4 linked regions of the Homo sapiens genome follow. The protein of the gene in region 4 interacts with the protein of the main gene of each other region in a pairwise test. Each region holds a gene or a part of one and is shown on either strand. Other genes may lie near its edges. The genes, in order: PRDM6, LHX3, ATP23 and TSSK3.

Evidence for each region.
Region 1: the proteins of TSSK3 (region 4) and PRDM6 interact in binary tests that used the Homo sapiens proteins (3 or more experiments, as listed by UniProt).
Region 2: the proteins of TSSK3 (region 4) and LHX3 interact in binary tests that used the Homo sapiens proteins (3 or more experiments, as listed by UniProt).
Region 3: the proteins of TSSK3 (region 4) and ATP23 interact in binary tests that used the Homo sapiens proteins (3 or more experiments, as listed by UniProt).

The regions. Positions count from the first base shown.
Region 1 is NC_000005.10:123,190,212-123,194,768, reverse strand, and holds the end of PRDM6 (putative histone-lysine N-methyltransferase PRDM6), read right to left. Parts: 3' UTR 503-4,557; downstream 1-502. UniProt on the Homo sapiens protein: Putative histone methyltransferase that acts as a transcriptional repressor of smooth muscle gene expression.
Region 2 is NC_000009.12:136,195,727-136,202,136, reverse strand, and holds the end of LHX3 (LIM/homeobox protein Lhx3), read left to right. Parts: intron 1-109; coding exon of another isoform or gene 110-116; intron 117-462; exon of another isoform or gene 463-926; coding exon of another isoform or gene 927-972; intron 973-1,383; coding exon 1,384-1,555; intron 1,556-2,256; coding exon 2,257-2,459; intron 2,460-3,077; coding exon 3,078-3,229; intron 3,230-3,316; coding exon 3,317-3,485; intron 3,486-4,393; coding exon 4,394-4,812; 3' UTR 4,813-5,887; downstream 5,888-6,410. UniProt on the Homo sapiens protein: Transcription factor.
Region 3 is NC_000012.12:57,936,832-57,944,594, forward strand, and holds the start of ATP23 (mitochondrial inner membrane protease ATP23 homolog), read left to right. Parts: upstream 1-4,735; 5' UTR 4,736-4,870; coding exon 4,871-5,057; exon of another isoform or gene 5,058-5,066; coding exon of another isoform or gene 5,067-5,097; intron 5,098-7,763.
Region 4 is NC_000001.11:32,357,671-32,364,820, forward strand, and holds TSSK3 (testis-specific serine/threonine-protein kinase 3), read left to right. Parts: upstream 1-4,868; 5' UTR 4,869-5,031; coding exon 5,032-5,176; intron 5,177-5,924; coding exon 5,925-6,586; 3' UTR 6,587-6,642; downstream 6,643-7,150. Other genes in the region: protein FAM229A, read right to left, coding at 3,763-3,865, 4,060-4,206, 4,288-4,421. UniProt on the Homo sapiens protein: Serine/threonine protein kinase required for spermatid development and male fertility.

The sequences.
Region 1 (4,557 bases), on a different chromosome or scaffold from region 4:
GCTATTCCTACATGCTCACATATTTTTTCTAAGTGAAATTTTATTTTCCAACAGAACAAGAGACAAACAGCTGACTTTGGCTTTCTTTCTGAGAGCCCCCAATCACATACATTCAGAAGAGTCATAGCCCCAGGCCACTCTCCGGGCAAGTGCTTTCTGCTGTGCTCCAAAGCTTATGGGGTTAGAGGTCAAATATCAAGTCCAGCCTGCCACAGATTTGTGGCTGGGTCTCTGCGCACAGTTTCCTTAAGAAGCTGTGCACCTGACTTGGTTGGGCAAATGAGCATGTGAGCACATGAATAAGGAAAACAGTAATCTCAAATGCATCCGAATAAACCTCAGGGCTGAATTTTAACAACCTTCCTGCTTGCTAGGTGTATTTTCTAGCTTATACTTCCCCAACAAGAGTTTGTTGACTGCCTACTACCTAAGCTGCACACTAGAATCAGATGGTGCTTGAAAAATGACTGTGGGACTGGAAAAGACAGAATCCAAGGGAAGATCGAGTCATCATAAAAACGTTTTATTAATCAAATATATTTACATTTCTTGGTCAATGATCTCTAAATGTGTACCTGTTTTTTCATTTAAATACAACTTAATCCTGGTAGATTCCATCACAAGAATACAGCAGCATGCATGATCTCATTGGTCCTTTGCAGTTATTTTTTCATTAAATAATGTGAGTTTAATAAAGTTAGAAAACTTTATTAAGTTTTACCCATTCTTACTGTGGGATAATCATTCTTGTCATATCAGTGGCCCTTACAGCAAACTACACACTCCTTATCACCCACAGTGAGATTCTTCTCATTCTCTTAACTGACTTGTTTAAGCTTTCCAAACTCCAAAAGGCAGATGTGAAACTGGGCATTCACTCTAACCATTTTATTTGGTGGAAAGTTGGAGAGAGACATATTTCTATTCCAGTAGGGAACATTTACAGTCCTAAACTTAAAATAACCACATTAAAGAAATGTATACAATGTCCTAATAGCATCTAAATATCACACTTCTATTAGCATCCTACAGAACTGGATGTCTTCCCCTTGATATAAAAAAAATAATTAACTTGGGACATTAAGTTTCCAAAATAATTTTGCTGATCTGAGCCAAAGTTTTCCTTAATTCGTTAGTCATCACCTTAGCCTCTGCATTTAAACTGGGGGAAGGCTTTTTCATGAAATACTTAGAACTGCTAAGGAGAATAATTTTGCCTCTGGCTTTTGCTATACATTTTCTCCAGGTTGGGAGAAACTAGAGAAGTGTACTAGATTGTTCAGAGAAAGTAAGTCTACAAGTGCTGATTTTGTTAACATTAGACAATGCCCACATGTGGATCAACAGGGACTGTGGGTTGGCAGACTTTTGCTCTAAGATGGCTGCTTTCCCCAACATGTGGCAATCACCTGATACGGCATAATTGCTTTTAAACATGAAAGAGTTGTGCTGTAGAAATAGATCTCCAGCTTGTTAAAGTTTATATCTAGACTGTTTTCAGTTGGGAGTGATGTACCAAAGTGGGAGAAAGGCACCAACAAGGATGTTTTTCAAGGCAGGAAACAGGAGATATCAACCAGGACCCACCATGTTTGACAAGGAAAATATATTTATCATTTCAACAAACAAATGTGCCCATTAGAATCAGAATCTGGAGGAAAGTAGTATACATTGTGGTTTCAATAAACCACGGTAAAGAGTTGTAATAAAGCCAGTTCATGATGAAATTTTGTACACTTACTTTTTGAACAAACCTCACAGTTTCATCTAGATTGTGCCCCAGAACTTGAACTGGTTCCTTGAGTACCTCATGCATGTAACTACACTATCTGTGCCTTTGACAAACCAAACCTATAATGACTCCAGTCTTTCTGCTGCACTGCTTTAAACCAACAGGCTAACAACATAAGCCCATATTCTTAATGCACACAACTGCGTAATGACTCCATTGATGCCTGGAAAGTAACTCACTTAGCATTCAGTCAGAACAAAGAAAGAAAACGAGATTTCACTTAGCCCCGTTGAGGATGTGTTTTTACCTGTCGATAGTGTTCGAACCTTATTCTCTTCTGGCCACCCTCCAACACAACCTGCCCTTCCTGCCTGTTGCCATTTGTCCTAATGTATATCACACTTGAGAGGGTTATTTTTTTTTCTTTCAATGTGGAATTTTAGATTCCTGCTTAGAAAAACAAAAACAATGCCTGACAGCAATGGAATAGTTGAAATTCTGTCCAGCAATGAGATTTGGGCATGACAAAATCAGCATCTATAATGATACGTGTTTTAATAGCACTTCAGTATTGTTTCCACAAACACATTTTATAAATAAATTATACTTGTGTTTATTAATTTTTAAAAGCTCTTGTTCTCAAAAAAAAGCTTTACATAGAGAAGTATTTTCCTCTTTTAACAATTGCCTGTTTATGGCTTTGAAGGAGGAAAAAAACTAAAGAAGCTACAAAGCTAAAACTGTTAAGCATATATGAGAAGGGGATAATGATAGTATCTTTGTTATAGAGTTACTAAGGATTAAAAGAGATAATCCACATTAAGCATTAGAACAAGGCATGGCAGTAATTGCACAATATAATTTATAATCATCATCATTCCCATCAACCTCTGTGGGAATAAGCGCAGAATGTCCTTATTTTTCCATTAAAATTTCCTCCATAGGTTTTCTAAGTGCAGTGGTGGCATATTCAGTCTATAGGAAAGACAATTCAAATGTTTCATGACTTTGACCTGTTTCCGACATATTTTTTGTTATCGTTTTACATATTGATCTGATGAAACATCTGGCATTTATTATTTAAAGGAAGAAACTAAATAAATATTTTAAATGTCAAACACAGCCATGGACTACAGGTTAAACATCTGTGGCAAGGTTTCCACAGATAAAGCAATATTCTTTTCAGTTTGGCTCTGTCTGGCCAGTTGTACCTGACAGCTGATCTCTGGGTTTGTAGAATGCAATCTTGGGGAGGGCTGAAATAGGTGCCTTCCTAGTAACCTGCGTTGTTGTTTTGTGGTAGTTCAGATAAATGCTAGTGAGGGGAGAACTTTAAACTTTGGGTTGATGATCACCCAGGTATCTAGTTAGCGCATAAAATTTTCCAAAGCTCTTCACCTTAAAAGGATCCTGACAAGTGAATAACATTTCTGGAACTTACAGTTATCATTTAAAGAAGCATATATCTCAGTATCTTTTAAAATCTGATGTCAGGATCTAGTAAAGACTCTGGGAAATAAAAATTAAATTCATGTCAAGGAAGAAACAGATAAACATTTCAGGAAATGTGATTATTTATTTCTTATTCCTGGCCTGGTTTCTGTAGGCATGCATAGCCTTAATATGAGAGCAATGAATTTGCTCCTAAACGCAGGCTGCTGGGTACACTCAGAGGGACCCGTTAACCCTGCTGTTCTGGAAATGCCCTCTTTGTGAGACGTGCCATGATTCCCATTTTAAACAACTCAATAGATACTTGCATTTTAAATTTTAAATTAGTGCAAAACAAATAATGTTACTTCTGCACACCGGGGAAAGGGACTACACTGCCAACGCTTACCACTAATGAGGCAACTCTGACCCATTCAGGGTCGCAGATCTCCTTCCCTGAGCAACTCCAGCCTTGTACCCAACTTGTTGCCTTATCATTGAAAGGGGGGGTCATAAAAACCCAAGACCCAGGCCCTAATCCTGGTCTCTTGATACTGCTGCTAACAACCAATAGCCCAGTGAGTTAAGCAAAGACAACCAAGTTGTGCATCTTAACTTGTTTTGCAATATGCTATTTTCTGGTCCCCAGATGAATTTACCTCTCTCAGATTTTCCCAGTTGGAACAAAATCTTTAACTTCACTGAGACAATGGTCTAAAGGACTAAAATACCCATTTTACTAGCAGCCACTTAGGAGGAGAATATTATTTTATCATGAATAGTCACTTAAATAATGCTGCTTATGGTGAACACATAAAATGGGGTCTTTATATAAAATAAGAGTTCAATAAATACTTGTTGAATAAATGAATGAAACAATGAACATCTGATTTAAAAATTGATGAACTGCTAAATGTTCGTATAAATCTTTGCATACCTGAACCAGAATGAAATTTTTACAAGGTAAAATTCAATTATGAGCCCTATGAGGACACAATGATGTCATGATCTTTTCCTGTTATACATAGTTTCCCAAGAAGGCTACATTTAAATGAACACAATAAAAAATGTACCAACTGAATCAAATTATATAAATTATATGAGATTAAGTTTCATAGCTTTAATTAGCCATACAATAACTTTTTAGAAGTATATCTCCTCCAAAAAAGTCATTTTTAAAGATAAAAACAAAACAAAAATGAAAAGCTTATCTATGAAAAATGTATGCACATATCCTGGGGAAAATACAACTTTGCCTTGGGATATTGAGATTTTTCTAGAAATGCAAAGGTCTGCAGCTCCATCTCTCATCCTATTGCACCCTGACTTTTCCCTGGCATTACCTTTCGTCTTAGACTCTGCTAAATAAAGGAACATACGCTAGGATGAAAAGT
Region 2 (6,410 bases), on a different chromosome or scaffold from region 4:
ACTGCGCGCCCGCGCTCGGGAGAGCTGGCCGGAGCGGGCGGGCTGGCGTCCAGGCTCCGCCGACCCCGCCATCCCTGACACAGGAGCCCCCGCCAGGGCTGGAGTCGCCATGCAGCGTAAGGCTGGGGTCGCGGGCGCGGCGCGGGGTGGGCTGGGGCGGCTTTTGCCCGACGCGGGCGCCGGCGGCGAGCTGCGGCCGAGGCGCTGTCCGGTCCGCGGTGCTGAATCCGCGCTGTGTCGGCCTGTCGGGCCGCCCCGCTCCGAGCCGGGTCCTCGCCTGCGATCGCTGCCCACGATGGGGACCCCGGGCGCGCAGCGGGTCCTCGACGCTCCGCACCCGGAGCTGCGGTTTTGCCGGATGCGGGGCGCATTCATCGCCGGTTTCCCGCCACTGCGTGGGGAGGCGCAGCCCAGTTTTTTCCGCCGGAGGTCGAGGGAGCCCCTTCCTGGTGTCTCTCACCCACTGGGAGATGGGCTGGAGCCGGCGGGGTCCACAGCCAGGGAGGCGGGTGCAATATGTCAGTAAATCCCGGTCCCTTCAGCGGGCACTCCTCTCTTCCAGAGACTTTTTCTAAGTGAAGAGGGAGTCCTCAGCCCTTGACACCTGGAAAACCCGCTCACAGACTCGAGGCTCCCACAGGGCACCCTTGGACCTCCCCAGTGTGGTTCCTCCAGGGGGCCTGCAGTACCGAAGTGGGGTGTGGGGGGCAGAAGCAGCGGGAAGCCAGACGTTTGAGTAACTCTGACGGTGTTGGGGGCACCCACGCCTGACACAAAGGCAGTGGATCGGCTTGTCCAGTCCACTCATAAGTAATTTTGCGGCTGCCCAATGATGGGGAAGGCATTGATATTTACCCCGGAGGCCTGCAGACAGGGCCACCAGGCAGGGCAGCCACATTTGCGAGGAGTCCCTAGAAAGAGTGGCCATGACGCTTAACATGAAGGAGACCCGATGGGGTGCCCCAGCTCCAGGTGATGGTGAAGACCCGTTTCCCTATGTTTCCTGCCGGGCTTCAGAGAGCAGATCCCCCTGGGGTGGGGTTTTCATTTGAGCTCCACATGCACCCTTCTTGGCACTGGCAACATTTTGTAATTGAGTATTCAGCCTCGTGAAATGGCCTGGGCTGCTTTCTTGCTCACACACATTTTTAGACCGATGTCAGTTTCCCCTTAGCTCCTGACATAGGATGCGGTGCCTGCACACTCCCGGAACTTGCGGGGCCACTTAAGCTGGCTGGGGAAGAGGGTGTGTAGGGAAAGGAGGACCCCTCGGCAGCCCTGAGTCCTGTGGGCCGGAGGGGAGACTGGCTCGCGTTGGGGTGGGAAGGTGGCTTCACTGCCTCCTGGTCTACGAGGTGACCCAGAACTTCCTCGTGCCCACAGAGATCCCGCTGTGCGCTGGCTGTGACCAGCACATCCTGGACCGCTTCATCCTCAAGGCTCTGGACCGCCACTGGCACAGCAAGTGTCTCAAGTGCAGCGACTGCCACACGCCACTGGCCGAGCGCTGCTTCAGCCGAGGGGAGAGCGTTTACTGCAAGGACGACTTTTTCAAGTGAGCCCCGAAACCTCACCTCAGTGTGGGAGCGGAGGGCACGCCTGCCCCAGGGACTCCTCCCCTCACAATCACCAAGGCCAGGCCCTCGAAGCCTGCGTCTCTCGCAATCCCAGCCCACTCCTGTCACCCAGGCAGGGCACCCTGTGGCCTGGCCAAATTAAGGGTGGGGCCTCTCCATGGGTGCTCCCTGGGTGGCTGGGCCTGGCTGGGACATCAGCAAGTATTATTTGGAAAAAAAAGCAATTTATTACCTAAATCACAGAAGCAGTCATTAGAGAAGATACACCCCTATTTGTAGGATTCTACTGGACTTAGTTCCTCCGAAATTGGTGATGTTTTAGTTCCTAATGCTGGCACCCAGCGGCTCTGGCCCAGTGGCCTTCATGGCTCCAGCTGTGGGGTGTGAGGGACTGGCCCCAGATGGGTCCTCTCCCTCCGGATTCACCTTCCCAGATCCAGCATGGGTCCTGCAGGCAATGGCGGCTGGGCTCCCCGAGGTCTTTCTGAGATTGAGGTTCCCTTCTCAGTGGGAGTGGGCAGCTCTGCCCCGGCGGCCAGGCTGGCGACCACCCTGCAGGGCCGGACAGAGCCTTCCTCCGGGGCCGCCTTCCCAGGCAGCCGCTTGCCTCTCTCCAACCCGCTCGGGGCGAAATGAGCCTCGCGCTTCCGCGCTGAGCCCGGCCCTGTGCGTCCCGCAGGCGCTTCGGGACCAAGTGCGCCGCGTGCCAGCTGGGCATCCCGCCCACGCAGGTGGTGCGCCGCGCCCAGGACTTCGTGTACCACCTGCACTGCTTTGCCTGCGTCGTGTGCAAGCGGCAGCTGGCCACGGGCGACGAGTTCTACCTCATGGAGGACAGCCGGCTCGTGTGCAAGGCGGACTACGAAACCGCCAAGCAGCGAGGTCAGCCGAGGGGACGACGCTCCCACCTTTCCTGGTCTGAAAAAAATGGGGCTGAGGCCACGCCCAGGGGGGCGTCCGGGGAAATTCTCTCCCCAAGCGCTCACTAAGGGGGCCTGGGCTAGGGCGGTGTAGGCAGCAGGAAGCCGAGGCCGGGAACGGCGGAGTCACGGACAGACCCGCGTCCCGAACCGCTTCGTTCGGTCCGAAGTGTGCGGCTTTTCGCCCCTGGTCGGAATTATCGCCCTAAATTCTTGGCCGCGAAGGCTGGGCCATACCCACACCCTTAGAATAAAGGGGAGCCCGCGGGGAAATCAGGGTGCTTGGAGAAGGGAGCCAAGGCTGAAGGCGGGGGCGCCGTGGAGGTGCGATTTTAGGGAAGGCGCCGCCCCCGCCCCCGCGGCAGAACCCGCCCTCCGCCGGCGCCCCCTCCACCCCAGCCCGGGTGCTGCCCGTTTTTGCCAATCGCTCCCAGCGCCCGCGCCTTCCGAGAAGCCTGTGGGGCGGGATGGGGGTGGGCACCTGAGGCCCCGACGTCCCCGCGCCGGCCGGGGTGGGAGGGCTGGGGGTCCGGCCGGGGCCGGAGGGGCTGCCGCGCCTCACCGCTCGCCCGCCGCGCAGAGGCCGAGGCCACGGCCAAGCGGCCGCGCACGACCATCACCGCCAAGCAGCTGGAGACGCTGAAGAGCGCTTACAACACCTCGCCCAAGCCGGCGCGCCACGTGCGCGAGCAGCTCTCGTCCGAGACGGGCCTGGACATGCGCGTGGTGCAGGTCAGCGCTCGCCCCTGCTTCCCTCCCGCCCGCGGCCTTGGGGGCCCCCGCAGAGCCGGGCGGCCGCTCACCCCGCCCCGCCCCCAGGTTTGGTTCCAGAACCGCCGGGCCAAGGAGAAGAGGCTGAAGAAGGACGCCGGCCGGCAGCGCTGGGGGCAGTATTTCCGCAACATGAAGCGCTCCCGCGGCGGCTCCAAGTCGGACAAGGACAGCGTTCAGGAGGGGCAGGACAGCGACGCTGAGGTCTCCTTCCCCGGTAGGCGGAGGGATCGCGGAGCTCGGGGGGGGACGAGCGCGCGTCGGCGGGGTCGCAGGGGTCCCAGGGAGCCCGCGGATCTGAATTTCCCATGGAGTTAGTGGACTCCTTAAGTTCTACTTTCAAAAGCATTTCACTTACAGAACCTGCTCCCCCAGCACCCTCCCCGCCCTGGGTGGCCACTCCGGACCACTGCTTTTCCCCTGGTGGGGACACAATCCCTGTGGCCCGACCTGTCCCCAAGCTGGGCGCCTACGGGCTTTCTCATGGGGGGGTGGGCGTGTCCAGGCCGTCTCTCTGGCTCCTAGCCCTTGCAGTGATTTTTAGGAGAATGGGCAGTGCATTTCGGGAAAGACTGAGTCGAAGTCCCAGCTGCTTGGAGTTGGGGGAGGGGGCTACCTGGGGTCAGGGAGAGAAGGTTCCATACCCTTCTGTGGGGCCTGGATTATTTATTTCATTCTCCGGGCACCGGGGATGCTGCGTCCCCATCTGTTGATGCCCATCCTCAGAATGTGGACAAGACACTCTCTTTTGGGCTGCCTCGTGACCCGGGCTACTCACTCAGCCACTCTGGAACTAAATATCCTTGTCTGCAAAATGTGGGTGGTGGTATCTGTGCCCCCTTCCTAGGCTGCTGTGGGGCTGGTCCTGAAAGCCTGGGCCCTGGCTGGGCTGTTCCTGACTCTGATCCCACCAGGCCTGAGACACCTGGGCTGACTCAGGGGTGAGGGCAGTGGAGGGGCAGGGGCAGCCATGCTCCAACAGTAGAAGGGGCCTGTTATGACCTGTCATGTGGTGTGGGGCAGCCACTCTTTCTCCGACCCAGGGGTGCCTCCGCCTGCAGGATGGGACTCTGAGGGGCCGCAGGTGGAGGGCAGGCGCTGACTGAGCCTCTGCTTCTGTTGCAGATGAGCCTTCCTTGGCGGAAATGGGCCCGGCCAATGGCCTCTACGGGAGCTTGGGGGAACCCACCCAGGCCTTGGGCCGGCCCTCGGGAGCCCTGGGCAACTTCTCCCTGGAGCATGGAGGCCTGGCAGGCCCAGAGCAGTACCGAGAGCTGCGTCCCGGCAGCCCCTACGGTGTCCCCCCATCCCCCGCCGCCCCGCAGAGCCTCCCTGGCCCCCAGCCCCTCCTCTCCAGCCTGGTGTACCCAGACACCAGCTTGGGCCTTGTGCCCTCGGGAGCCCCCGGCGGGCCCCCACCCATGAGGGTGCTGGCAGGGAACGGACCCAGTTCTGACCTATCCACGGGGAGCAGCGGGGGTTACCCCGACTTCCCTGCCAGCCCCGCCTCCTGGCTGGATGAGGTAGACCACGCTCAGTTCTGACCCAGGCCCGGCTCCACCCTGCACCTCACACGAGGGAGCTGCCCCTGGGTGGGCGGCTCGGGGCTGCTGGGGTTTCCGAGGAAGTGGGGCCAGGGCGTCAAGGGAGGGCTGGTGCCTTCGGAGCCTCCCACTGCCGACCGCACAGCTCCCTCTCTGGGGGCTGAGGGACCCACCTGGCCCCTCCTCTGACACAGGGCTGGCCCGCCAGGTGGCCTCCCAGCAAGCCAGCCTTTTTTGTAAGCAAATTTCTCCCCTTTATTGACCAATTAACTGAGCACTTGCTGCTATTTCTAGACATGAAATGTCACCTTGCTGAGGCCCAGCCCAGCCCAGCATAGCCCGAGGGCTGGAAAAACGCTTTCATCTCTAAAACTGAGAAATCATCATAATTGTGCTTTCACTTCCCAGGCTCCATGTGTCTTGGAGCCGTCACCCCGAGGCTCCCTCTTTAGGTCGGAGATTGGCCTTGCCTGTCGAGGCAAGAGGCTGCAGAGGCGGGGACACACCTGTGTCCTCCGGGAGAGGCCCCCTCCTCTCCCCAGACCACAGGGGGCCTCTCTGCCTCCAGCCCCACCTTCCCCGGGAGAAGCTTTCCCCAATCCCCAGGTCTCTAGATCATTCTGTTCTCGAGTATCCTGTGGAGGAGGCAAAAATGCCTGGCGCCCCTTCTCTCCAAGCTCAATTCTCTAAGCCCCTCAGGGTCTCCTCCTCACCCCACCCCAGGCCCTTGGTGTCCAGGCTGCACCCACAGATGTCTGTTGCCAAACAGCCTGCCCTCCCTGCCGGAGCCGGCTCTGCCAGCCCCAGATTGGGAAGTCTCCCCGCTGGAGAAGGGTGGGGCTCCTCTGAGCCTGCCCTGCCTCCTCCATCAGATCCTTTGGGAAGAAGTTTCTGGGAGATGCCCGCAGCTGTGCGTGCCCCAGACACAAAGGCTGGCCTGTGTGTAAGTCAAAGTCACTCCCGCAAACCTGAATCTCGAGCTACCTATTGGTTCTGTGAATGTTCTGTGTCTTTTATTTATTCTCGGGTGATCAGCTCTTTCCAAGACTTCAATAAATTTGTCAGTTACAGTCAATGGAAGGCCCGCGTTTTTTTGAGGCTGCGGGGGTTGGGGAGTGTTGGGTGTGGGGAACATTCTGTGAATGTTGAGAGGCAGCCCTGGAGGGGCCCTGAGTCCCCCTAGTTCGTTGCTTGGGCTGGCACCTAGTATGAATTTGGGCTCTCTTTATCCCTGGATCTTGGCCATGCTCATGAGCACTGGAAGGAGGTGGGGGGAACAGCCCATCCCTTCCTGATGGAGGGGAGGGGTTGCGGTCTCCACACCCTGTCCCTGGGAGAGGCAGGGGTTGGGATGTCCAGAGAGCATGATGGGGGTGGGAGGTGGGCCGTGTGTGCCATTCACAGCTTGCAGCTGGCACCAACCCCAGGACATAGGCTGGTAGGGTGACCAGGCTCATGGTCATGGAAGTCTCTCCAGCTTGGATTCCAATCCTGGCTCTTCTAACTTGCTGTGTGACCCTGGGCTGGGGGCTGGAACCCTCTGAGCCCTGCTTCCCCGTCCCCACCCCCCAACCCCCCCAACCCCGCCGCCGCCGTAA
Region 3 (7,763 bases), on a different chromosome or scaffold from region 4:
TTAGCAGGCAGTTTCAGCAGCCAGGCCTGTAGAGAATTATATTTTTCAAGTGATATTTGTGACCTGAATGTTTTTTCCCTCTGGCCTCTCCACTCTTTAACTGGTATGACAAAAGTGACCCGATTTATATGATCAACTTTCACAGCTGACAGGTGGTAAACTCTTTACAATTATATGTAATTTATTTGTTACTGTGATAGATTTATACAATTTTAAATAATTTAGTTCCCATTAAAAAAGCAATTATTTTTGCTTTAGAAAATGAAGGCCAAAAAAACCCCCAAAACACAAAACCTCCAAATCCTACCCATTTAAGGACAACCAATGTGAATACTTTGTAGGAGTCTTCCAGACCCTTTCTATGAATTATAGTAAGTACAAATTCAAAATGGAATCATACTGTATATGCTAGTTTGGAACTTAAAAAACTTTTTTTTTTTTGAGACAAAGTTACTGTGTTGCCCAGGCTGCAGTGTAGTGGCCCGATCTCGGCTTACTGCAACCTCTCCACCACCTGGGCTCAAGCAATTCTCCTGCCTCAGTCTCCTGAGTAGCTTGGGATTATAGGCGGCGCCACCACACCCAGCTAATTTTTGTATTTTTAGTAGAGATGAGGTTTCACCATGTTGGTCAGGCTGGTCTCGAACTCCTCATCCCAAGTGATCTGCCTTCCTCGGTCTCCCAAAGTGCTGGGATTACAGGCATGAGCCACCCGCGCCCAGCCTGAATTTTTTTTTTTTTTGAGCTGTTGTCTTGCTCTGTCGCCCAGGCTGGAGTGCAGTGGCGCGATCCCAGCTCACTGAGGCAGGAGAATTGCTTGAACCCAGGAGGCAGAGGTTGCAGTGAGCCGGGATGGCGCCACTGCACTCCAGCCTGGGCGACAGAGCAAGACTCTGGCTCAAAAAACAAAAAAACAAAAAAACAAAACAAAACACCCAAAAACTTTTAATGAACATATTTTGTTTAAAAAAGACACTTAACATGGTTGTATATATTCCATTATACCTCTTGTTGGATATTTAAACAATTGATGTCTTCCCCTGCCGCCCCTTTTTTTTGAGGAGGAGGTGTCTTGCTGTATCACACAGGCTGGTCTTGAACTTCTGGGCTCAGGCAGTCCTCCTGCCTTAGCCTCCCAAATAGCTATGATTACATGCCACTGGCCTGGCCATTTTTGCTCTCAATTAGTGCTGCAATGGAGAAATGAAAATCCTTATAGCTAAATCTTTGCCCTTGCTCTAATTTCTTTGTGGTAATTCTTTTTCTTTTTAAAACTCATTTGTATTTGCTGTTCATTATCTCTTCCTTAATGTGTTTTTATTCCATACCTATGTCTTTATACTGTATACAGATGAAGTTACACATGGCATCCAAAGCCCACTTGATTTTTTAAAGTTTATTTTTCTGATTATAAAGGTAATACATGCTTATTGAGGAACATTAGAAAATTTCAGGAGAATGTAACAAAAAAATTCCAATACCTAGACAACCATTGATACTGTGGTATGAATTTTTTTCCATCTGTTTCTTCAACAATGAGTATTGAAACAGTTTTAGCTAATTTAGTAAGGAAATGTTGCAGCTTTTGGTTTGTACGTTTTTACTTATTCCTGTAGCTGAAGGGTATTGCAAATAGTATCCAGAAATAAAGCCACATACCTACAACCAACTGATCTTAGACAATGACAACAAAAACATATAATGGGAAAAGACACTCTATTTAATAAATGGTGCTACACAAAGTGGATAGACATGCAGAGGAATGAAACTGCACCCCTTTCTTTCACCATATACCAAAATTAACTCAAGATGAATTAGAGTTAAATTTAAGACCTGAAACAATAAAAACCCTAGAAGAAAACCTAGGAAAAACTCTTGTGGAGATTGACCTAGGCAAATAATTTATGAGCAAGTCCTCAAAAGCAAATGCAACAAAAACAAAAACAGACAAATGAGTTTCATTAAGCTAAAAAGCTTCTGCATAGTAAGATAAAGAATCAAATAACCTACAGAATGGAAGAACATATTTACAAACTGTGCATCCAACAAAGGACTAATATCCAGAATCTACAAGGAACTCAACCAGAAAAAACTAAATAACCCTATTCAAAAGTGGGCAAAAGACAGGAATAGACATTTCTCAAAAGAAGACATACAAGTGGCTAATAAACATGATAAACTTCTCAACATCACTAATCATCAGAGAAATGCAGATTAAAACCACGGTGAGATACCATCTTGCACCAGTCAGAATGACTATTATTAAAAAGTCAAAAAACAACCCGATATTGATGAGAATTCAGAAAAAAGAGATTGCCTATACACTGTTGGTGGGAATGTAAATTAGTACAACCTCTGTGGAAACTAGTATGGAGATTTCTCAAAGAACTAAAAATAGAACTACCATTTGACCCAGCAATCTCACTACTGGCTACCCAAAGGAAAACAAATTGTGACTGGGTGTGGTGGCTCATGCTTGTAATCCTAGAGCTTTGGGAGGCTGAGGCAGGAGGATCACTTGATGCCAGGAGTTTGAGACCAGCCTGAGCAATATAGCAAAAAACCTCCATCTCTACAAAAAATTAAAAAGTTAACCAGACATGATGGTGCATGCCAGTAGTTCTAGCTACTCGAGAGACTGAGGTGGTAGGATTGCTTAAGCCCAAGAATTCAAGGCTGTGGTGAGCTATGATTACGCCACTGCACTCCAGCCTGGGTGACAGAGCAAGAACCTGTCTCTGAAAAAGAAAAAAAAAAGAAGAAATTGTTATGACAAAAAGACAAAGACATAGAATCAACCATTAACCTAAGTGTCCACCAACAGATGGTTAAAGAAAATGTGGTTATGCATACACCACGGAATACTATGCAGCCATAAAAATAATGAAATCATGTCTTTTGCAGCAACATGGATGGAGCTGGGGGCCATTATCCTAAGTGAAATAACTCAGAAGCAGAAAATCAAACACCCCATGTTCTCACTTATAAGTGGAAGCTAAAGACTGAGTGCACGTGGACATACAGAGGGGAATAATAGACACTGGGGACTCCAAAAGTGGGGAGAGTGGGAGGGGAAGGGTGAGGGTTGAAAAATTAACTATTGGGTACAATGTTCACTGTTTGGGTGATGGGTACACTAGAAGCCCAGACCTCACCACTACACAATATATCTGTATAATAAACCTACACATAAACCACCTGAATCTATGTATTAAAAAAGAAAGCATGAAAAAAATCCAAATAGTATTTCAAATGTATATAGGCTATGGTCCATTTCTAGGCATATCTAGCCTGCCTTCAGTATTCCAAACTAATCACACTGAATTGTAATGGCTTAGTTTTCCATATGTGTGTTTTAGTTCAATAACTGGATTGAAAGCTAGTTGTGTGGTCCTAGATAAATTATTGAATTTTGCTGAGCCCACTTTATCTGCAAATTAGAGATAATACTTACTTTGCAGGGTTGTAGTGAGGATTGGAAATAATGTATCCAAGGTGAATTTAATTAAAAAGTAGTTACTTTTTTTTTGACTTCTGGCTTTAATAGTCTATGTACATAGGAGTTGTTTGTATTTTTATAATATTCCAGATGAATGACTATCCTAGCATCCCACTCAATTTAGATATTGAGCATCTATGACACATAAAGCACTGTTCATAACCCTAAAGGCCTGCTGAGCCTATATTTTTCAGATATGTTTCTTACATAAACCACATGCTGCTCTTCATCTTTAGCAATTTTCTTAGTCATGTGTTTCCTCAGTCTCTTACACCTTGCCTGGCCCATCATAGTAGGTGCTGAATAAATGTGTGAGCTGAGTGGAATAATTTAGTAGGAAAAGAGAAACACACAAATTGGATAAAACCTGGCAGGCTACGATGAAAATGATTAACAGGTACAAAGTGCTTTGTACATTGGGAGATCAGGAGACATTAATTTTGATTAAGGTATCTGGGAATGCCCTGTGGAGTAGGCAGATTTGACCTGGGCCCCAATCATAGGGGCTGAGGCAAGGAGCTTAAAGATGGAAATGACAGTATGAGTTAAGGCTGAGAGGTAGAAGTAAACAGGGTGCGCTTTGTTATCAGGGAGTTATTGGTGGGGGGTGGGGCAGAAGAGTAGGGTAAACGAATGGGTACAGGTGGGAAGAAAAAATGTAGTTGGTTCCTACATTTTGAGGATTTTGATGTGACTAGTCATTCTTTATAGTTTTAAAACGTTTCTGAAAAACACTGCTTTCAATATGGCCAGAGGCATCTTTGGGCAGAGTGGATCTGAGGGATGGCAGGGGTCGGGAAAGTGGCGGGCCAGAAATGACAACTGGCTTGCCCCGGAAGAAGGCAGGGAGTGGGAGGATGGCCGAGACCTTCGGCGGCACAAGAGCAGTTAGTGGCCAATATTCGCCCCGAGGTGAGGAAGGAGTGTCTGCGAGGAGGCGGGACACCCTTAGAGCTCAGCAGGCAGCAGGAAGCTGCAGAACAACGCTTATAAAGACATGTCACCCACACTGGGAGGGCAGCAGCGAAATCCGCGGCAGCCGGGTTGTTACAGCCTTTGAGGGAAGTCGCAAGACCCAGCTCCGCCCAACAGCATCGGGCCCCGCGCCCCGCCCCATGCCCTCGCCCCGCCCCTCATCCCTCGCCCCGCCCCTCGCCTCTCGCCCCGCCCCTCGCCTCTCGCCCCGCCTCCCGCGCTCCCCGTCAGGTTCAAAGCCCCCTCCCGCCTAACGTCTTCAGCCCAGCCAGGCTGCCCTTCTTCCCTGCGGAGGGAGGGCCTGGGCGGTCGCGTTGGCGGGAGGGAGGTTACCTTTCCCAGTCTCGCTCTGGCCGCCTGAGCCAGGAGGAAGCAGCGGCGAGGTCTGCGGGAGGCATGGCGGGAGCTCCGGACGAGCGCCGGCGGGGCCCCGCGGCAGGGGAGCAGCTGCAGCAGCAACACGTCTCTTGCCAGGTCTTCCCCGAGCGTCTGGCCCAGGGGAATCCCCAGCAAGGGTTCTTCTCCAGCTTCTTCACCAGCAACCAGAAGTGCCAGCTTAGGCTCCTGAAGACGCTGGAGACAAGTAGGAGCCATGACCTGGAGGCTGTGGTTCCACAGAATGGGTCTGAGACCGGGTGGGCGAGGAAGGGCCTGGGCAACACCTGGCCAGGGGCTTCAGGTTCAGCACAGAGTCTAGACAGACTGGGCATCATGGGGGCTGGGTTGGGAGCCTGAGGCTCAGTTTCCCCACTAGAGGTGGCGCTGAGACCCTTTTCGTCGCTGTTTTTGGCTTGTGGAATGAATTTGTCTGCCCTTTTTTGTCACTCACTGTTGTGACAGATCCTCCGATTTCTTACATAAGTTATGCAGCCACACTGTGACTTCAGGGTAAGGGTGAGGCCAAGTTTTAAAGTGCCAGCCAGGTTAATTAAGGCACACAAAGGCTGTAAAAATGTAAAAATGTAATTAAGGCATACCAAGGCTGTAAAAATATAAAAGCAGTTTTGCAAACCTACCGTTCCTTGGAAGTGGTTCATGCATGAATGGGCTTCAGAGCGTAGAAATCCCTGAAATGGTCTGTGAAATCGTGTGTATGTGTGTGTGTGTGCCCCTAAGTGCATTTTTTTTTTTTTTTTGAGACGGAGTCTCGCTCTGTCGCCCAGGCTGGGGTGCAGTGGCGCGATCTTTGCTCACTGCAAGCTCCGCCTACTGGGTTCACGCCGTTCTCCTGCCTCAGCCTCCCGAGTAGCTGGGACTACAGGCGCTCGCCACCACACCCTGCTAATTTTTTGTATTTTTAGTAGAGACGGGTTTTCACCGTGTTAGCCAGGATGGTCTTGATCTCCTGACCTCGTGATCTGCCTGCCTCGGCCTCCCAAAGTGCTGGGATTACAGGCGTGAGTCACTGCGCCCGGCCCAAAGTGTATTTTTTTTTGGTCGGGGGAGAGAGTTAATAGCTTCATCATATTCTCAAAGAGGCCAACGACCCCACAAAGGTTAAGAACTGCTGTGGGTTAAACAGGGACACAACTGCCCATTGACAAATTTCTCTCCCGTCCCAGAGACATTGCACTAGAGAAGATTTCTTAATTCCTTTACATTGACATAGACTTCTTAAGTTTACTTTCAGATACATTCAGAAAATTAGTCTTAAACATACTTGTCCCAAAGCAAGGTTACTATTTCATAGCTAGTCAGTCACAGTTCAAAAGTCAACCACCGAAAGATTTTCCAACCTTCTTGGGATTACCTGCTTGTAGAGACTCAGGGAGGTAGGAGGAGGAAGGGGAGTTGAGGGTAAAAGGGGAGAGAATGATGATATTGTATTTACTGTACAAATATGTATTGAGTGCCTCCCAGGTTCTGGTGGGGGAAGTAGAAAGATGAGTTAGCACCCTGCCTTGAAGGTGCTTCAAAGTGGAATAGAGTGGAAAGAGTATGGGTTGCAGAGTTAGATGTGGGTTCAAATGCGGATCCCTTTCCTCAGGTGTGGAAGGTGACTTAACTTCTCTGATCCTCACTATCCTTATTGTAAAAAAAGAGAAGGGGAAAATACCTTTTTTAGGGTTGTTGTGAAGAATAGATTTTATGGGGCTGGGTACGGTGGCTCATGCCTGTAATCTCAGCACTTTGGGGAGCCAAGGCAGGGGGATTGCTTGAGCTCAGATGTTTAAGACCAGCCTGGGTAATATAGGGAGACCCTGTCTCTACAAAAAATAAAAAAAATTAGCTGGATGTGGTGGCTCATGCCTGCAGTCCCAACTATTTAGGAGGCTGAGGCAGGAGATTTGCTTGAACCCAGGAGGCTGAGGCTGCAGTGAGCTGTTATTGCATCACTGCACTCCAGCCTGGGCAACAGAGCGAGACCCTGTCTAAAAAAAAAAAAAGTACTGATTTTATGAATGTAAAGTACCAGCATATCAGGAGCTGAGCTGAATAAATGGTAGCTGTTTTTACAGTGGAAGGGCCACACAGTGGAGGAAGAGTGGAAATAGATAGGATGTGAGGAAGGTGGGGTGCTGAACATGAGCCCCAGTAGGAATCAATGGACCTTGATCTTCCAAGGGCAGGGTGGCTGGGAGGGTCTTTTGGTGGTATTAAAGTGTCAACCTGCAGCTTTAAAATGCTATCCCTGGGTGGGGCGTGGTGGTGGAAACCAGACCTCATGGGAGTCTCTTTTTTTTTTTTTTTTTTCACCAAAGCAATTTTATTCTAAATATTGCTGCAGGTCCTTTTTGAAGTACTAAACCATGGTTTTTTTTTTTTTTAAGTACAAGGACTACAGACTTTTGAAACTGTTTTAATTTTGTAAAATTCTCCTAGTTGCATGAATAATAATGTGCTTAATATGGTGCCTGCTACCTGGTATTCACTCAATAATACGTATTGTTAACAATAATTATTCTACTGTGAACACTCTTGCAAGGGGCAGGTTGGTAAAGCAGTAACCTATACCTGACTTTCTCATCTCACATTTCTTTTTCTCACCTATTTTTGCCTTCAACATTTTTTTTAAACCTTAGTTTCTTTTTCACTTTTTTTGGGTTACATCATATAATTGGCTGTGCATTTATATTCTCAGACAAGATGCCTATGTGAAAAGTTAATATCAGAGGCATTTGGGCTCCTTGTACTTTCCTGTAGTAGTCACGGGCCCATAGAGTCTTAGATGTGGAAGGGCCCTCAGGAATCGTCTAGGCCTCCCCGTCCCCTTACAGGGAAACCTCTGTGCTATTGCTGGCCAGATACTCTACAGACCTCTCCTGGAATACAGTTACCTGTTCCTTGA
Region 4 (7,150 bases):
CCTGGTTGATTGGCTCAGTAAGAGGAGGAGGATTTGTGGGGGATTTGCTTGTGGTTGGGGTGGCTGTCCCCCTCTCATATCAAGCGATGGGAAAGGGTAGCGCTGACGTCGATTATTGCCATGGTGATACAGCAACCCTTTCCCTGCTGTCTCCATGGTAACCTGGGGGGTCCATCTGTACTTCGCCCCCTCCTTCTAAAAGGGGGTCCCTTAGGGAGGGGCTGGCTAATAAGGTGTCTGGGAAATAAGTCAGGGAAGGCAGTGATTGGAGCATCCCCCTTTGCCTGGCCCCTCCCCATTCCTCAGGCCCAGAGAGTAAGGCTGGGATCTGCATTGGGTCCTGCACTGGGGTCCGGGGACAGATGTAACCTTTAGGGTGAGGGAGGCAGCTCTGTCTTTTCCACCTGGGGATTCCCTTGGAAATTCCCCTGCCCCCAATCCCCCCACCAAGTTCTTAGGCTCCTGAACAGAACTGCTAGGAAGTTGGCAGAGAGAGGCAAGAGGGTTTCCTCAGCCCTCTTCAGGGCTGGACATCACCCAACCCCTGGGGACAGTGTCTTTGGCTGTCTGGCTGTCTGCTGTCCCTTGAAGCCAAAGGTAGGAGCAGCAGCCGTAGCAGTCTCTCTTGCTTATCAAGTGGTAGCTTTGGCAGTGATTCCTGCATGGTGCTATACATACAGGTCCTTACTGAAACTTTCTACCAGGTGTCAATTAGCCCTACTTAACAGATTTGAAGATGGAGGCTCAGAGGGGCTAAGTAACTAGCTCAAGACTGCACAGTTAGAGAAACAGCAGAGTTAGGACTTGAACTCAGCACTAGTTTCGGCCAGTGGCTCTTCCAGTGGAAAGGAGTAAGAAGAAACAGAACAGGATGGAAGAGAAGAGAAATAGGAGAATGAAGTGACCCAGGTAGGAGCCTGTCGTGCTCTGCCTGCCTGCAGAACAAAGTTCAAACTCCTTCACCTGGTACGCAAAGGTCTCCTTGATCCAGCTTCTCTTCTGTTAACCCATTCCTGGATCCCCTGCATTCTATGCTCTGAAAGGGAAAATGATGTCAGATTCAGGGCTGGGTTCTCAGTACCAGGCATGGCCCAGGAAGGTGTTGATGAAAATTGATGAACTGAGTTTCTTGAAATTGTCCTTCACTTTCCTGCCTCCAGGCCTTTACCCACAATGCTTCCTCCCCAAAGGGAATGCCCTTTCTCTTGCTCATGGACATTCTAGAGCTAACTAGCCCCATTGGCAAGGACTGCGTCTAGAATCTTTGTATCCCTCACAAATCAGGTACGTGGGATGTGGCAGTAACTGGTTTCTAAATTTTTTTTTTTTTTTTGAGATGGAGTCTCACTCTGTCACCTAGGCTGGAGTGCAGTGGTGCGATCTCAGCTCACTGCAAGCTCCACCTCCTGGGTTCACACCATTCTCCTGCCTCAGCCTCCCGAGTAGCTGGGACTACAGGTTCCCGCCACCACGCCTGGCTAATTTTTTTGTATTTTTAGTAGAGACGGGGTTTCACCATGTTAGCCAGGATGGTCTTCATCTCCTGACCTCATGATCCACCTGCCTCGGCCTCCCAAAGTGCTGGGATTATAGGCGTGATCCATCATGCCCAGCCTAATTTTTTTTAGAGACAGGATCTCACTCTGTTGCTCAGGCTGGAGTGCAGTGGTGTGACCTTGGCTCATTGCAGCGTCAAACTCCTGGGCTCAAGCAATCTTCCTGCCTCAGGCTCCCCGGTAGCTAGGACTACAAGCACACGCCACCATACCTGGTTTTTTTGTTTTGTTTTGTTTTTAGAGATGGGATCTTGCTGTTTTCCATGCTGGTCTTGAACTCCTGGGCTCAAGTGATCCTCCTGCCTCAGCCTCCCAAAGTGCTGGGATTACAGGCCTGAGCCACCATGCCTGGCCTATTTTTTTTTTTTTTTTAAGGAAAGGAGGGTTGAGAAGAGAGGAGAAGGAAGTGGGAGAGATGGAAAAAAAGGAAGAATGAGAAGGATTCACTATTTGGGGGCTGGCAGAGTCCAAAGAGACCAGCTGATGCCTTTTTTTTTTAAACCAGTGAGGAAATAGGCCCTTTTAGTAAGCCTCCTACATGGGGACTGCCTGGGAGAGCATTTTATGTGGAAACTGAGAAGGGTATCCCTTTTGGGTGACGTGGAATTTTAAGGTGCTCTAGGGAAAGCTTGGACTTCTCTACCCTATGAGGATTAGAGGAGGGTGTTGAATCAATTGTCCTTAGATCTCAGGGGACAGGAGACTGAACCTGACCTTTAGGTTACACTCCCCCCGTAACAAAATTGGAAAGTAGAATATACGGGCTCATTAAAGCCAAATTGGAAAGTAGGAAATAGTTGTTTAGCTTAAATACTAGCACCTCCAGGCAGGCTTCCTGTCATGGGCCCCTCCGAGGGCAGATCTTAGGTCATGTGGTCTCAGGATGCTGAGGAGTGTGCTAGACTCTCATTGGGGGACCTTGGGTAAGTCTCAAAGGCTCAGTTCACTCATCTGTAAAATAGGAAGTTAAACCAACGTCTTTCTTTCTCTCTCTTTTTTTTTTTTTTTTGGATAGAGTCTTGCTCTGTTGCCCAGGCTGGAGTGCAGTGGCATGATCTCAGCTCACTGCAACCTCTGCCTCCTGGGTTCAAGGAATTCTCCTGCCTCAGCCTCCCGAGTGGCTGGGATTACAGGTGCGTACCACCACACCCAGCTAATTTTTGTATTTTTAGTAGAGACGGGGTTTCGCCATGTTGGCCAGGCTGGTCTCGAACTCCTGACCTTGTGATCCACCTGCCTCGGTCTCCCAAAGTGCTGGGATTACAGGCGTGAGCCACCGCGCCTGGCAAGCCACCATTTTTCAAATGGCCTCTTCCCCAATCTTTTTATGATCACTTCAGTCCTGGGAGAAACCAAGGCTCAGGATGGACTGGGGCAGCTCCAAACCCTTCCAATAAGGAAGGTCCCAGGCACCTAGGGCCACAAAGAGCAAGTCGCAGAACTTTGTCGCAGAACTTCTCGCTCGAGAGGATTAAAATGGGTCTGGTCGGGTGCCTGTAGTCCCAGCTACTTGGGAGGCTGAGGCAGGAGAATTGTTTGAACCTGGGAGGCAGAGGTTGCAGTGAACAGAGATCATGCCACTGCAGTCCAGCCTGGGAAACAGAGCGAGACTCCATCTCATAGATAGATAGATAGATAGATAGATAGATAGATAGATAGATAGATAGATGATAGATAGATAAGATAGATAGATAGCCTGGTGTGGGTGGCCTATGGCTGTATTCTATGTTACTTGTCGGTCCACCTCTTCCTCCTGTTCCCCGCTTCTGTGGGTTGCCAGGGTCCAGCACAGTGATGTGAATTTCACCGGAGAATCACCAGAGGGTTAGAGAGATGGACCAGGGCAGGGCCCAAGGGAAAGGCTGCCCAGGAGGGGTCAGGACCAGCAAGATACGAGAGGAGTGAAGTGGCGTAGGTTGAAAGGCGGAAGGGCGGGCCCCTAAGGCTGGGTCCAAACGAGGAGGCTGCGGAAGGGAAAGTGTTATTGGACTGGGCAGAGCAGCTGGTGGGCCCGACGGATAGACATACACTGCCAGCCCGGAGTGGAAAGAACAGTTTGTGCTGTGCTTTATTAAAATGTGCATCATTCTTTTATTTTAAAATGTGCATCATTGTCTCGTGCTCGGCGCATGCGACCTCAGCGTGGTGGCCCGCTGGGGGCCTCGTTCCCGCCCAGCTCCCGCGGAGCCGCAGGGAGCAGGCGCACTCACGTGGCGCGGGCCCGGGGGCTCCCGCCCATGGCGAGGTAGACGTCGATGGGCACGTGCAGCAGCGTCAGGCAGTGGCATCCAGGGCAGCGACGAAGCGGCCTGGGGAAATTGACGCGCGACAGGGGCCGCTGAGGCAGGGGCTTGGCCCATCCTGTGGGGCGCACCCAGGGAGTGCACCTGGGGTCCCCGGGGGTCCGGACGTGGATGCGGGGTCCTGACTGCTGGGGGCGCCAAGTGGGACGGAGGGCGGGGCCGCGGGACGGGCGGAGGCGGGGGTGGGGCGCGGGCCTTACCTGACCGGGTTGTGCTCCGTCGCTACCGCCTCCGGGCTGTCCTGGGACTCGGGGGCGGCGGCAAGGCCACGGGAGTCTCCGGCCTCAATGGGGAATCTCCGACCCTGCGGGGGCTCCTGGGCGCTCATGTCCAAGCCCCGGGGCGCTCTGCGCGGGGAGTGGCGGTCAGGCCTCTCCCGGGTCGCCGGGCGCCGCCGCCTCGCGCCCGCCCCCTGGGCCGTCGCTCACCTCCCGGCGGTTGAGACCGGTCCCAGGCTAGAAGCAGCTGCCGGAGCCCTGGCCGCGGGAGAACGCTCCGGTCCAGGCGGAGCCGGGCAGGTCTCTGTGGCGTGCCCGGGCCCGGGCGTCGAGGAGGGCAGCATTGTGACCCGGGCCGCGGCGCGCTGACCTCACAGAGCACGTTCCTCCCACTGGAGAACCCCCAACGGTGCCCCCTGCCGCCCCTGGCACTCAGCGCGGGCCAGAATCGGGGACTGGAGGCCTCTGGCCATGGCGCCTGGAGACGGGGTCGCGCAGACCCCGGACACCCGAGGGGGGCGCAGCAGGCCAGGGCAACCCGCCGCGAGGCGGCGTCCACGCCGAGGAGCCGCGCATTCCCGGTCCACACAGACGCGGCGGAGCGCCCTCCCAGGCGGGACTACAACTCAATGCCTGGCACGGGGGCGGGCTCGGCGGTGACTTAATCCGGGCTGAGTTTGGTGGTGGTAGTGAGGGCAGGTAGGGGCACTGCCCATTTTGGCCAAGGGTCACACAGCATCTACATCACAATTGCACCGGAGTTTAAAAATGTCTGGCCCTGTCCCTCCCCACCACCCGCCGCTGTGTCCAGACAGAGAATGTTCTAACGCTGGGGGCGGCTGCGGATGAAGTCCTTGGGGAGAAAAGGAGCAGGCCAAGGGCGATGGTGGAGTAGAGCTGCCTCTCAGAGGCAGCATGAGCTGAGAGGGTGATAGGAAGGCGGCGCTAGACAGCATGGAGGACTTTCTGCTCTCCAATGGGTACCAGCTGGGCAAGACCATTGGGGAAGGGACCTACTCAAAAGTCAAAGAAGCATTTTCCAAAAAACACCAAAGAAAAGTGGCAATTAAAGTTATAGACAAGATGGGAGGGCCAGAAGGTGAGCCGGGGCCCCTTTGGAGGGAAGGAGGGAGGACTGGCTGAGGTGGGTGGGTGCTTCCTCCTGTTTGTTAGAACGATCATTCGATCATTCCCTGCTCCCGCTGGCCTGGAACCAAGCAAGCCCGATGGCAGCTCTGGAGTGGGTCAGTGGGGAACAGAGGGGTTCTGGGAGTCCAGGAACATTACACCCCCCCAGAATGCAAGATGAAAGTGGCATGAGGTGAAGGATCCTCAGAGGCAAAACCTGAGCCAGGCTTTCCTTTCCGGCAGGGGAACAGAGACTGGCAGAGGCCACAACCAGGGCTGGTAGAGAACAGGGGCTGGTGCCAAGGCCCGTGGAGATGGGAAAAAGGAAGACAGGGCTCATGGAAAGAATTGTGGGGTCAGGGGACAGTGGCGGGAGGAGCTGGCTCACCACCCTGTGGACAAATCAGGCCTTATAATTTGTGATTCTGTGGCTTTGTCTAAAAGTCCCTAAAGCACCTTGATATCCAGTCTCACAGACTGCTCACAACAGTCCACAAGGCTGGTGGGGAGTGCTTCTTTTGAATGATATACTAACGACAAAAATAATAGAAGTGAACATTCTTTGCAATGTCCAAGCAGCTAGACACACTTAAGACCATTAAGAAAGCCAAGAAATAAGACCCAGACAAGGTGGGCAGAAGTTGGAAGGCAGGAGACAGGTGTGAGGAGGTGGGCCTTTCTGATCTGCCAGCCCATCTCTCCTCCCCTTACTTCCTCAGAGTTTATCCAGAGATTCCTCCCTCGGGAGCTCCAAATCGTCCGTACCCTGGACCACAAGAACATCATCCAGGTGTATGAGATGCTGGAGTCTGCCGACGGGAAAATCTGCCTGGTGATGGAGCTCGCTGAGGGAGGGGATGTCTTTGACTGCGTGCTGAATGGGGGGCCACTGCCTGAAAGCCGGGCCAAGGCCCTCTTCCGTCAGATGGTTGAGGCCATCCGCTACTGCCATGGCTGTGGTGTGGCCCACCGGGACCTCAAATGTGAGAACGCCTTGTTGCAGGGCTTCAACCTGAAGCTGACTGACTTTGGCTTTGCCAAGGTGTTGCCCAAGTCACACCGGGAGCTGAGCCAGACCTTCTGCGGCAGTACAGCCTATGCTGCCCCCGAGGTGCTGCAGGGCATTCCCCACGATAGCAAAAAAGGTGATGTCTGGAGCATGGGTGTGGTCCTGTATGTCATGCTCTGTGCCAGCCTACCTTTTGACGACACAGACATCCCCAAGATGCTGTGGCAGCAGCAGAAGGGGGTGTCCTTCCCCACTCATCTGAGCATCTCGGCCGATTGCCAGGACCTGCTCAAGAGGCTCCTGGAACCCGATATGATCCTCCGGCCTTCAATTGAAGAAGTTAGTTGGCATCCATGGCTAGCAAGCACTTGATAAAAGCAATGGCAAGTGCTCTCCAATAAAGTAGGGGGAGAAAGCAAACCCAAAAACCCGCTTCTAAAATGGTGATATATATTTTACGCTTTAAGTTTACTTATCCTAAAACTTACCTACATCTACCCCAGCCTTACTACTACTCTTTCCTTTTAGAGATCTTCATGGAATCAAAGGGCCTCATTCAGACTTCCTTTTTTTTTTTTAAGAGTCTTGCTCTGTCGCCCAGGCTGGAATGCAGTGGCACGATTCCAGTTCACTGCAACTCTGCTTCCCAGGTTCAAGCGATTCTCCTGCCTCAGCCTCCCCAGTAGCTGGGATTACAGGCACCTCCCACCACGCCTGGCTATTTCTGTATTTTTAGTAGAGATGGGGTTTCACCATGTTGGCCAGGCTGGTCTGGAACTCCTGACCTTAGTGATCCACCCACCTTGGCCTCCCAAAATGTTGGGATTACAGGCATGAGCCACTGCGCCTGGCATGACAAGTGATTTTCATACTAAAGTTAATTAAAATAGACCCAAGAATCATATACAAACAGGGGGAAGAGAGGATAAAAATGAC